Homo sapiens: one gene and its partners. The protein of the gene in region 3 purifies or fractionates together with the protein of the main gene of each other region. This does not show direct contact. Each region holds a gene or a part of one and is shown on either strand. Other genes may lie near its edges.

The links.
Region 1: the proteins of DBF4 (region 3) and DNA2 purify together in Homo sapiens (affinity purification with mass spectrometry; one large-scale study listed by BioGRID and IntAct). This does not show direct contact.
Region 2: the proteins of DBF4 (region 3) and NME6 purify together in Homo sapiens (affinity purification with mass spectrometry; one large-scale study listed by BioGRID and IntAct). This does not show direct contact.

Annotation. Positions count from the first base shown.
Region 1 is NC_000010.11:68,465,474-68,468,973, reverse strand, and holds part of DNA2 (DNA replication ATP-dependent helicase/nuclease DNA2), read left to right. Parts: intron 1-667; coding exon 668-851; intron 852-3,161; coding exon 3,162-3,307; intron 3,308-3,500. UniProt on the Homo sapiens protein: Key enzyme involved in DNA replication and DNA repair in nucleus and mitochondrion.
Region 2 is NC_000003.12:48,295,093-48,298,367, reverse strand, and holds part of NME6 (nucleoside diphosphate kinase 6), read left to right. Parts: intron 1-1,538; coding exon 1,539-1,641; intron 1,642-2,209; coding exon 2,210-2,249; intron 2,250-3,132; coding exon 3,133-3,275. UniProt on the Homo sapiens protein: Major role in the synthesis of nucleoside triphosphates other than ATP. The ATP gamma phosphate is transferred to the NDP beta phosphate via a ping-pong mechanism, using a phosphorylated active-site intermediate. Inhibitor of p53-induced apoptosis.
Region 3 is NC_000007.14:87,903,993-87,907,492, forward strand, and holds part of DBF4 (protein DBF4 homolog A), read left to right. Parts: intron 1-299; coding exon 300-424; intron 425-3,195; coding exon 3,196-3,500. UniProt on the Homo sapiens protein: Regulatory subunit for CDC7 which activates its kinase activity thereby playing a central role in DNA replication and cell proliferation. Required for progression of S phase.

The DNA.
Region 1 (3,500 bases), on a different chromosome or scaffold from region 3:
GGTTCAAGCGATTCTCCTGCCTCAGCCTCACAAGTAGCTGGGATTACAGGCGTCCGCCACCACGCCCGGCTAATTTTTGTATTTTTAGTAGAGACGGGGTTTCACCATGTTGCCCAGGCTGGTCTTGAACTCCTGACTTCAGGAATCCACCTGCCTCGGCCTCCCAAAGTGCTGGGATTATAGGCATGAGCCACCGCGCCTGGCCTAGTTTCAACTAGTTCAGTTTGATTTTATTCTTGCTACACTGGATTTGGCTTCATGCTTCAAGACTTATACAAGCTGTAGATTTCCTAAAAGTCTTAAGAAAGAGTAAATTATTAAAACAACCCAATTCATAATTGGAGCTATATATTACATTAGCAAAGGTTTTTTGATAGCTTTTGCAATAGACTTTACTGGCACTAAGTTGTTTTCCCTTTGGGATTTATAGAAGACCCTTGAGTATTCTCAGATGTGTTTGACACATAGAAAGGGGTAGAATAACTAGGGGTTGTTTTAGAAGACTGTATCCTGCTATTTGATTTTTTTTTTTAAAGACCCAGAAATTTAGAAATATTTTTTTCTTCTTCAGATAAAATACTCATTTATTTTTTTGAAGCCTCCCTAATACGTTTACATGTAGGAACCTAAGCTATGTATTTATACTTTAACTTTGCTTTATTTTCAGGTGTTCTGTTCCAGTAGAGCCAGGAGATATCATTCATTTGGAGGGAGACTGCACATCTGACACTTGGATAATAGATAAAGATTTTGGATATTTGATTCTGTATCCAGACATGCTGATTTCTGGCACCAGCATAGCCAGTAGTATTCGATGTATGAGAAGAGCTGTCCTGAGTGAAACTTTTAGGGTAAATAATAGTAACAGTTAATGTTTCTGCAGGGTCTGAGAGTTTTACAGAGCACTTTTACATTTATTATTTCACTTAATCCTCCCAGCAACCCTATAAAATAAATGGTATTAATTAGCTGCATTTTATAGATGAGGAAAATGGGCTCAGAGAGGTGAAGTGACTTGCCCCATAGCCACATAACTATGAGGTGGCAGTGCTAGGACTAAAGGCCAGGTGCCTGAGTCCTTCGAATCTTGTTCAGGGCTTAATAAAATAACTAATTATAATAAGAAAATTAATTTAAATGATAAACTTTTAAATTTAAACACACCTAGACATTTCCAAAGTTGGCTTCATGTGATTCCCACTAAACTAAAAATAAATGTGCAAACTGCTTTTAAAAAATGTATTTTGCTAGAAAAATTAGCCAGGTGTGGTGGCGTGCACCTGTAGTCCCAGCTACTCAGGAGGCTGAGGCAGGAGAATCGTTTAAACCCGGGAGATGGAGGTTGCAGTGAGCCGAGATCATGCTACTGCAGTCTAGCCTGGGCGGCAGAGCAAGACTCTGTGTCAAAACAAACAAACAAAAATGTATTTTGGACTATTTCAAACATACAAAGAGATGATTGTAATAAACTCCCATGTACTCAACACCCAGCTTTTTATTTATTTTTCTTGAAACATGCAGTTTTATTTTAAAATAAAAAGTCTCAAAAAAAAAACGTATTTTGGGGCTGGGCGCAGTGGCTTACGCCTGTAATCCCAGCACTTTGAGAGGCCGAGGTGAGCAGTTCATGAAGTCAGGAGTTCAAGACCAGCCTGACCAACATGATGAAAACCAGTCTCTACTAAATACACAAAAATTAGCCGGGCGTTGTGGTGCGCGCCTGTAATCCTAGCTACTCGAGAGGCTGAGGCAGAATTGCTTGAACCCTGGAGGCGGAGGTTGCAGTGAGCTGAGATCCCACCACTGCACTTCACGGTGGGAGATAGAGGGAGACTCCGTCTCAAAACAAACAAAAATGTATTTTGGGCTATTTCAAACATACAAAGAGATGATCGTACCCAACACCCAGCTTTTTATATATTTTTCTTGAAACGTACTTTTATTTTATTTTGAGTCTCACTGTGTCACCCAGGCTGGAGTGCAGTGTGTCACTGAAGCCTTGACCTCCCAGGCCACCTCAGCCTCCCTAGTAGCTGGGACTATAGGCATGAGCTACTGTGCTTGGCCTGAATATTAAGTTTTAAAAAACTTTTTGGACCGGGCGCAGTGGCTCACGCCTGTAATCCCAGCACTTTGGGAGGCCAAGGCTGGCGGATCACGAGGTCAGGAGATCAAGACCATCCTGGCTGACATGGTCAAACCCCATCTCTATTAAAAATACAAAAAAATTAGCCGGGTGTGGTGGCGGGCGCCTGTAGTCCCAGCTACTCGGGAGGCTGAGGCAGGAGAATGGCGTGAACCTGGGAGGCGGAGCTTGCAGTGAGCAAAAGTCGCGCGGCTGCACTCCAGCCTGGGTGACAGAGCGAAACTCTGTCTCAAAAAAAAAAAAAAAAGGTCTAGGCTAATACAAGAGTTAATCAAGAAATGTAGTGTTTCTTTTTGAGTGGAGAAAAATTCCTTGCCAAAAATCTCTGCTGTAGGTTAAAAAAATTTTTTTTCTTCCCAAACATTACTGCTAAGTAGGTTTACATTTTATGTTTGAATGGTATCTTTTACTTACATGAGTTTATCAGCTATGCCTTTATTGACTTTTCTATTGGGTGGATTATCAAGTGAAATAAGAGAACAATACTTTAAATATTAATTATTTGAGAATATTTTGAATTTTAAAATATTGGTTATTTTAATTTTTTTCAAAATGGAGAACATTGATTTTAAAAGTAATTCATATCAGCCTGGCCAACATGGTGAAACCCTGCCTCTACTAAAAATACAAAAAATAAAAGTTAGCCGGGCATGATAGCACACACCTGTAATTCCAGCTACTTGGGAGGTTGAGGCATGAGAATCATTTGAACCTGGGAGATGAAGGTTGCAGTGAGCTGAGATTGTGCCACTGTGCTCCAGCCTGGGTGACAGAGCAAGACTCTGTCTCAAAAAAGAAAAAAAAAAGGATAACTCATACAGTAATTCAGACAATTCTGGATAGAAGAAAGTGAAAGTCACTTATAATTCCACGCACCAGAAAAAAATTTTTTTAATATTTTGGCATTTGTCTTACCAGTGCATTTTGGCTATGGTGGTTTAATAGATTAGGTAATAAATATACAATTGTGTCTGTTAATATGTTGTGAAATAAACTGTGTGATTTGCTTTTGTAGAGCTCTGATCCAGCCACACGCCAAATGCTAATTGGTACGGTTCTCCATGAGGTGTTTCAAAAAGCCATAAATAATAGCTTTGCCCCAGAAAAGCTACAAGAACTTGCTTTTCAAACAATTCAAGAAATAAGACATTTGAAGGAAATGTAAGTAGTTATAAGAAGAACTGCAGGTATAATTTTATTATATAACTTCTGTCCTAGAAACTATAAAGTATTTGTGTAGACTATCCAATATAAATTAGTGTAATCTAAAATGCAGATTTCATAGTTCTAGTACATTGTTGGAACTCTGTGAAGAGTTTCTGAAATTGCTCAACAGGAACTTTTTGGGTAAAAA
Region 2 (3,275 bases), on a different chromosome or scaffold from region 3:
CATTGGGCCATTTATGGTGACTGACAACACAGACTTGTGCTGGATGCTGTGGAGGCAAAGCTAGAAGCCATGAACTCTGACCTAAGGAGACTAAGAATCCATTGGAGACTTGAGGCAGACCTAAAATGTAAGAAAGGACCCAAAGCAATAATAGAACCGAATATCAAGACAATGTGTATTTGTTAGTTTCTATTGCTACATAACACATTACTCCAGACTTGAGAGCTTAAAACAACACTTATTTGTTATTTCACAGTTCAGTAGTTTAGAGGTCCAGTAGGCTTGGCTGAGTTGTTTGCTTAAGGTCTCACAAGGCCAAAGTCAAGGTATTGGCTGACCAGGTCCTTATCTGGAGGGTCTGGGGGAAGAATTCACTTCCAGACTCATTCAGGTTGTTGGCAGAGTTGATTTCTTATGATGGTAGGACTGAGGCTGCCATTTCCCTGTTGGCCTTCAGGCAGGAACTCCTTTCAGTTTCTAGATACCACTCACATCCCTCATCACATGGCCCAGTCTGTCTTCAAGACAGCTGCAGTGCATTGAATCCTTCTCATGCTTTGAATCTCTCTGACTTCTTCAGCCTCTAGCCAGAGAAAATGCCTGGCATTGAGAAGCCTTCACAATTCTAATCCCACAGGGCTCATGTGATTAATTAGGCCCACCTGGATAATCTCCCTTTTGATTACAGCAGAATCAACTGATTAGTAACCTTAATTTCCCTCAAAATCCCTGTTGTTATGTAATGTAACATAATCATATTGCATCATATTCACAGTCCTGGAGATTAGGGTGGGAAATCTTGGTGGGGCTCGGGGTCATTTTCACATTCTGTGTACCATAGTTTGATAAATACTAACTGAGTAGCACTGCTAAGTAAGCCCACTATGGTGCAGAGGAAGATCTAAGCAGTCAGGAGTGGGGGCCTGGAAGTGGCAGGACTCAGCTGGGCCTCAAAGGAATGGTAAACTTTGGTTAGTGCCAGGAGAAGGACAGGTGTTGCACAGAAGGGAGACGCTGAGGCAGGAATGCATGTGATGGGTCTGAGGGCCGCAGGCAGCCTGCGATGGTGAGACTAGAGAATTGGTACAGAGTAAGGAAAGTATAACCTTGAGCACTGGGCTAAAGTGGTTGTACTTCATTCCTTGAATAACAGGAACTACTTAACACCTTCTGACCAGAGTGTGACGTGTCAATTATAGAGTTTCTCATCTATCAAGTGTGATGGTTTGGAGGGAGTGAGAGAAACCCAAGGCAGGACCACTAACAAGACTTTTATGGTGGTCTGAGTGGTGGGTCCTGTGGTCTTGAGCTCAAGGGGTTATAGGTATGGAAGAGCAGAGACAGCGCATCCTATCCCCTTTCACCCAAGGTGCACACTCTGGCTGTGTGACTGAAGGTCTTCACCTCACCCCACCTCGTCTTCTCACCCTTCAATGGGACAAACCCTCAGGTCCTGAGCAACAAGTGGTCCTCATGGTTTCTTTTGGTCAGTTTCAGTCTCCTGATTGATTTTTATTTTGGGGATGGTCTTTATTCAGGCTGTTCATCAGCAGATTCTAAGCAACAAGTTCCTGATTGTACGAATGAGAGAACTACTGTGGAGAAAGGAAGATTGCCAGAGGTTTTACCGAGAGCATGAAGGTAGGATCAGTAGTCCTCTGAATGGAAGGTGCCTCAATCCCAAGAGGCCATAAGAGAGATTTTACCTGGAACACAATGGCAGGCTCTCTGACCTACCAACCGTGTACAGTTGCAGCCAGTTTTCTAAAATCTTGGTTTAAAACACACACTTTTCATGATTATCCATCTTTTCCCAAGGAGGGTTCTACCTTGTAGTCCCAACCAGAAACTTAGTTTTATGTCTTGATAATATCAGTAGTTAACATATAGTGAATGAATGTTTACCATCAGACATTGTCCTAATGCTCATTTTTTCATTCAATTTTCCCAACAACCCTAAAAAGTAGGTGTTGTTATATCCCTCGTACGCAGATTAGGAAGCCAAGTTTAGGAGGTTAATGATTTACCCAAAACTACGCAGGTTGTAAGTGGCAGACCCTGGATTCAGACCCAGGTTTGTCAGACTCCAAGGTCCTTGTTCTTTTCTCTGAAACAATTTTTATTATTCTAGGTAAGGAGGTAGAAGTACAGAAAGTTGCCTTGGGCACCAGGATGAAGGTATCTTGATGAAGGTCCTCTCTCTTTGCAGGGCGTTTTTTCTATCAGAGGCTGGTGGAGTTCATGGCCAGGTACTTCAAATTTGGTTCCAGCATCTTTATCCACTGAGGCTAATCTCCCCTGCCCCTAAATGGATTTGTTCATTTCACTGCCATTCTTTAAAGTTGTAATCAGGCCAGGCACGGTGGCTCATGCCTGTAATCCCAGCACTTTGGGAGGCTGAGGCGGGTGGATCACTTGAGGTCAGGAGTTTGAGACCAGCCTGGCCAATGTGGTGAAACACCGTCTCTACTAAAAATACAAAAAATTAGCCCGGCATGGTGGCAGGTGCCTGTAATCCCAGCTACTCGGGAGGCTGAGGCAGGAGAATCGCTTGAACCTGGGAGGTGGAGGTTGAAGTGAGCCAAGATCGTGGCACTGCACTCTAGCCTGGGCAACAAGAGTGAAACTTCGTCTCAAAAACAACAACAACAGCAAAAAATTAGCCAGGCATGGTGGCGGGTGCCTGTAATCCCAACTACTCGGGAAGCTGAGGCAGGAGAATCACTTGAATTCAGGAAGCAGAGGTTGCAGTGAGCCGAGATTGAACCATTGTACTCTAGCCTGGGCAACAGAGTGAGACTCCATCTCAAAAAATAAAGTTGTAAACAATGTCAAATCTGAAGAAACACGGGTTTGGGGCTGTCACTGAGCCGATGCTGACCTGTTAGGCACCTGTCCTCTGGTGGTTAGAAGAGTCCCCTTGAATGCTGCATAGCCACCCTGCTGATCTCTGCAGGCTTGATGTACACCAGCAGGGGCCCTGCATCACCTATTTGAAGCAGCATTGGTACTCAGCTGGAAAGGCAGGAAAACTCTCAGAACGTAGAGTGTGTTTTTATTCAGGCCCTGCTCACAGCACACCCTCCTAGTCTAGATGGCCAGGTTCTTTACATGTGCTTGTTTTGTTCACAGCGGGCCAATCCGAGCCTACATCCTTGCCCACAAGGATGCCATCCAGCTCTGGAGGACGCTCATGGGACCCACCAGAGTGTTCCGAGCACGCCATGTGGCCCCAGATTCTATCCGTGGGAGTTTCGGCCTCACTGACACCCGCA
Region 3 (3,500 bases):
ATCTGTGTCTTCGTTTTCTGACACAGCTCATTCTTTTCAGTTCCATTGTAACTACAAATTAGTACTTGTCTTTTCTCACTGAAGACTAAAAACCAAAGTAGTTTTACTGGCTTCTCAAAAGTGACTTTTATTTTATTTTATTTTAAACGTCTTTTGAAGTCTAGTAAAGGGTATTATCTTTGGAGTAGTTATTGGAAACCTAATTTTAGGGGCATGAGAATGTTAGAAAACCTTAATTAAAAAGGCATCTCTTGATTTTAAATACAATTTTTTGATACATGTTTTTAATTTTGTTTTAGCACCTTCTAAGTGAGCAACACAGAAACTTTGCACAGAGTAACCAGTATCAAGTTGTTGATGATATTGTATCTAAGTTAGTTTTTGACTTTGTGGAATATGAAAAGGACACACCTAAAAAGAAAAGGTAATTAGTTTTATCAACCTAAGTTTTAAATTCTACTAGGCGGCCAGGGGTGGTGGCTCATGCCTGTAATCCCAGCACTTTGGGAGGCTGAGGCAGTTGGATCACTTGAGGTCAGGAGTTCGAGACCAGCCTAGCCAACATGGCAAAACCCCATCTCTACTAAAAAAATAAAAAATTAGCCGGGTGTGGTGGTTGCACACCTGTAATCCCAGCTACTCGGGAGGCTGAGGCAGAAGAATCACTTGAAACCCAGGAGGCAGAGGTTGCAGTGAGCCAAGATTGCACCACTGCACTCCAGCCTGGGTGACAGTGAGACTCCGTCTCAAAAATAAATAAATAAATTATACTAGAATATTAAACTATTAAACTAAAAATAAACACAGTTTTCCTGTTCTTAGAAGGAATATGTATTTTCGGGATGTAAATATGGTTAAAAACCAGTAGCTTCTTCCCTACTATCAAAGATCCTTACCTTAGACTACTTTTAGTTCCATTCTTTTTAAATTTTCTTTTTATGTAAAACTTTTCCTTTTTTAAATTTTTTGTTTTATTTTGAGACAGTCTCGCCCTATCACCCAGGCCGGAGTGCAGTTGCATAATCTTGGCTCACTGCAACCTCTGCCTCCCAGGTACAAAAGATTCTCATGCCTCAGCCTCCTGAGTAGTTGGGATTACAGGCGTGTGCCACTACACCCCACTAATTAGTCTCATTCTTGACACTGTAGTTTAGAAGGAGTTGGCTGACTTTTCCTGTAAAGAGCCAGATAGTTGATATTTTAGGTTTTGTGAGCCGTAAGATCTCTGTTGCAACTAATTAGCTTAGCTTTTTTGTACAATGGATATGACTGTATTTTGACGCAATTTTATTTGGAAAAATAGACTGACGGCTAGATTTTGCCCACAGGCTATATAGTGTATCAGCTCCTGTTGTAGAACCATAAAGTTTACCATTTACTCAGACTAAAACATTTTATTGAACTTTTAGGTAATATTAAGGAGTTTTAAGAAAACTTCCTCCACTTGCCCCTTAGGTCTTTATATTTCACTAAATATCTTTGCCTAAACCTTATGATGGGTATGTTTACTAAAGGTACTGACAGGACTTTTAAGTGTGAATACAGTACTGCTCAATGTACACCAACTGCACATTGACAAAAATTGTCCTGATTAGATTATTCCTATAAACTTAAAGGGATGGTTTCATATGGATATACCCTAGAGGTGGTGATAACTCATTAAGTTAGTCTTTATTCTTAGACTAATCTTACTTAAGACATAAAGAAGATTAGAAATGTGATAACAAGATACAGCTTCTGAAAATTAACCAGAAAGTTTTTTTACTTCAGGTAAAACAGTTCTTAAATTCCATATTTCTGTGACATTCAGAATGGTTTCATGACTGACTTAATATGGATTTGAAGAGAAGGCATATTTCCAACTATTAAAACTATGTGGGCTACTGTGCCCAGGCAGGGTGTCTCACACCTGTGGTCCCAGCACTTCGAAAGGCCGAGGCGGGCAGATCACTTGAGGCCAGGAGTTCCAGACCAGCCTAGCCAACGTGGTGAAAGCCCATCTCCACTGAAAAAAAAAAAAAATTAGGTGGTGGCACATGCCTGTAGTCCCAACTACTTAGGAGGCTGAGGCGCAAGAATCACTTGAACCCGAGAAGCAGAGGTTGCAGTGAGCTGAGATCAGGCCACTGCACTCCAGCCTGGTTGACAGAGAGACTCTGTCTCAAAAAAAAACAAAAAACAAAAAAACTATGTGGGCTACTCTAAGAACTTATAATTCCCTAAAAACTCAGTCTGCAGCAAAATTCTGAGCTAGTACTGGTTGTTCCTTAATTGTCACTTCTGTGGGCAAGTGTCCTAAACATCTTGGACTTAAAAGCCATGTTAGAGTAGTTTTTTTTTTTTTTTTTACATTTTTTTATTGCCCATTTGTTCAAAGAGAATTGTTTGTAAGTAAATGTATGAACAAGATAAAAAAGAACATTCTGGTTGAAGGGGCAGGAAAAATTGTATTATTTCTCACAGTTAATCTGTGACATGCGGAACACAAAATGTAATTGGTGAGCTATTAACTTTTTCTCTAATTGTATATTATTTAGGTTTGTCTAATACAAACTGGAATTTCAGGGATATCAAGATGCTCCATGAAGAAAATAATTTTAGGTCAAATATGTTTGAAGCTTAAAAGTTACAACTTTGTCACCTTTGAAAGTATAAAGATACTAAGTTTCTAGCTCACTTTGATATTAAATATTCTTAAATGTAAATTTAAAATATATGTTTTTGCCATAGGTTTCTCAGTAAATACTTATTCTCCACATTGCTAAGTAAAATGAAGAGTAAAATGTGCATTAATGTAAATCAAAGCACAGAAGTTAAGAAATTGTTCAGAATAATGAAAGCAAAATTAGGGGCAGGCTCAAATCCCTTTACTATCAATTTCTTTCATTTACATGATTAAAGTAATTTTAAATGTCAAAATTCAGGATATTGGTTATCTGGGAGGGAGGCAGGGAATGTAGAGGAGAAGAGAGGTACACTAGGGTTTTCAGCTATATCTGAAAAGTTGTATTACTTTAAAAACAGCTCAAGTAAATTTGGCAAAATGTTAAGATGTTTGTATTTTTGTAAAATTTCCTAAGTTAAATAGGTTTCTTAAAGATTATATAATGTTTTTACTAATTTAATTTCTAACTACTCAGGAATTTGTTTTGATAGCAATTATTTTAATATTTTTCTTCTATTTTTCCTACAAAGAATAAAATACAGTGTTGGATCCCTTTCTCCTGTTTCTGCAAGTGTCCTGAAAAAGACTGAACAAAAGGAAAAAGTGGAATTGCAACATATTTCTCAGAAAGATTGCCAGGAAGATGATACAACAGTGAAGGAGCAGAATTTCCTGTATAAAGAGACCCAGGAAACTGAAAAAAAGCTCCTGTTTATTTCAGAGCCCATCCCCCACCCTTCAAATGAATTGAGAGGGCTTAATGAGAAAATGAGTAATAAATGTTCCATGTTAAGTACAGCTGAAGATGACATAAGACAGAATTTTACACAGCTAC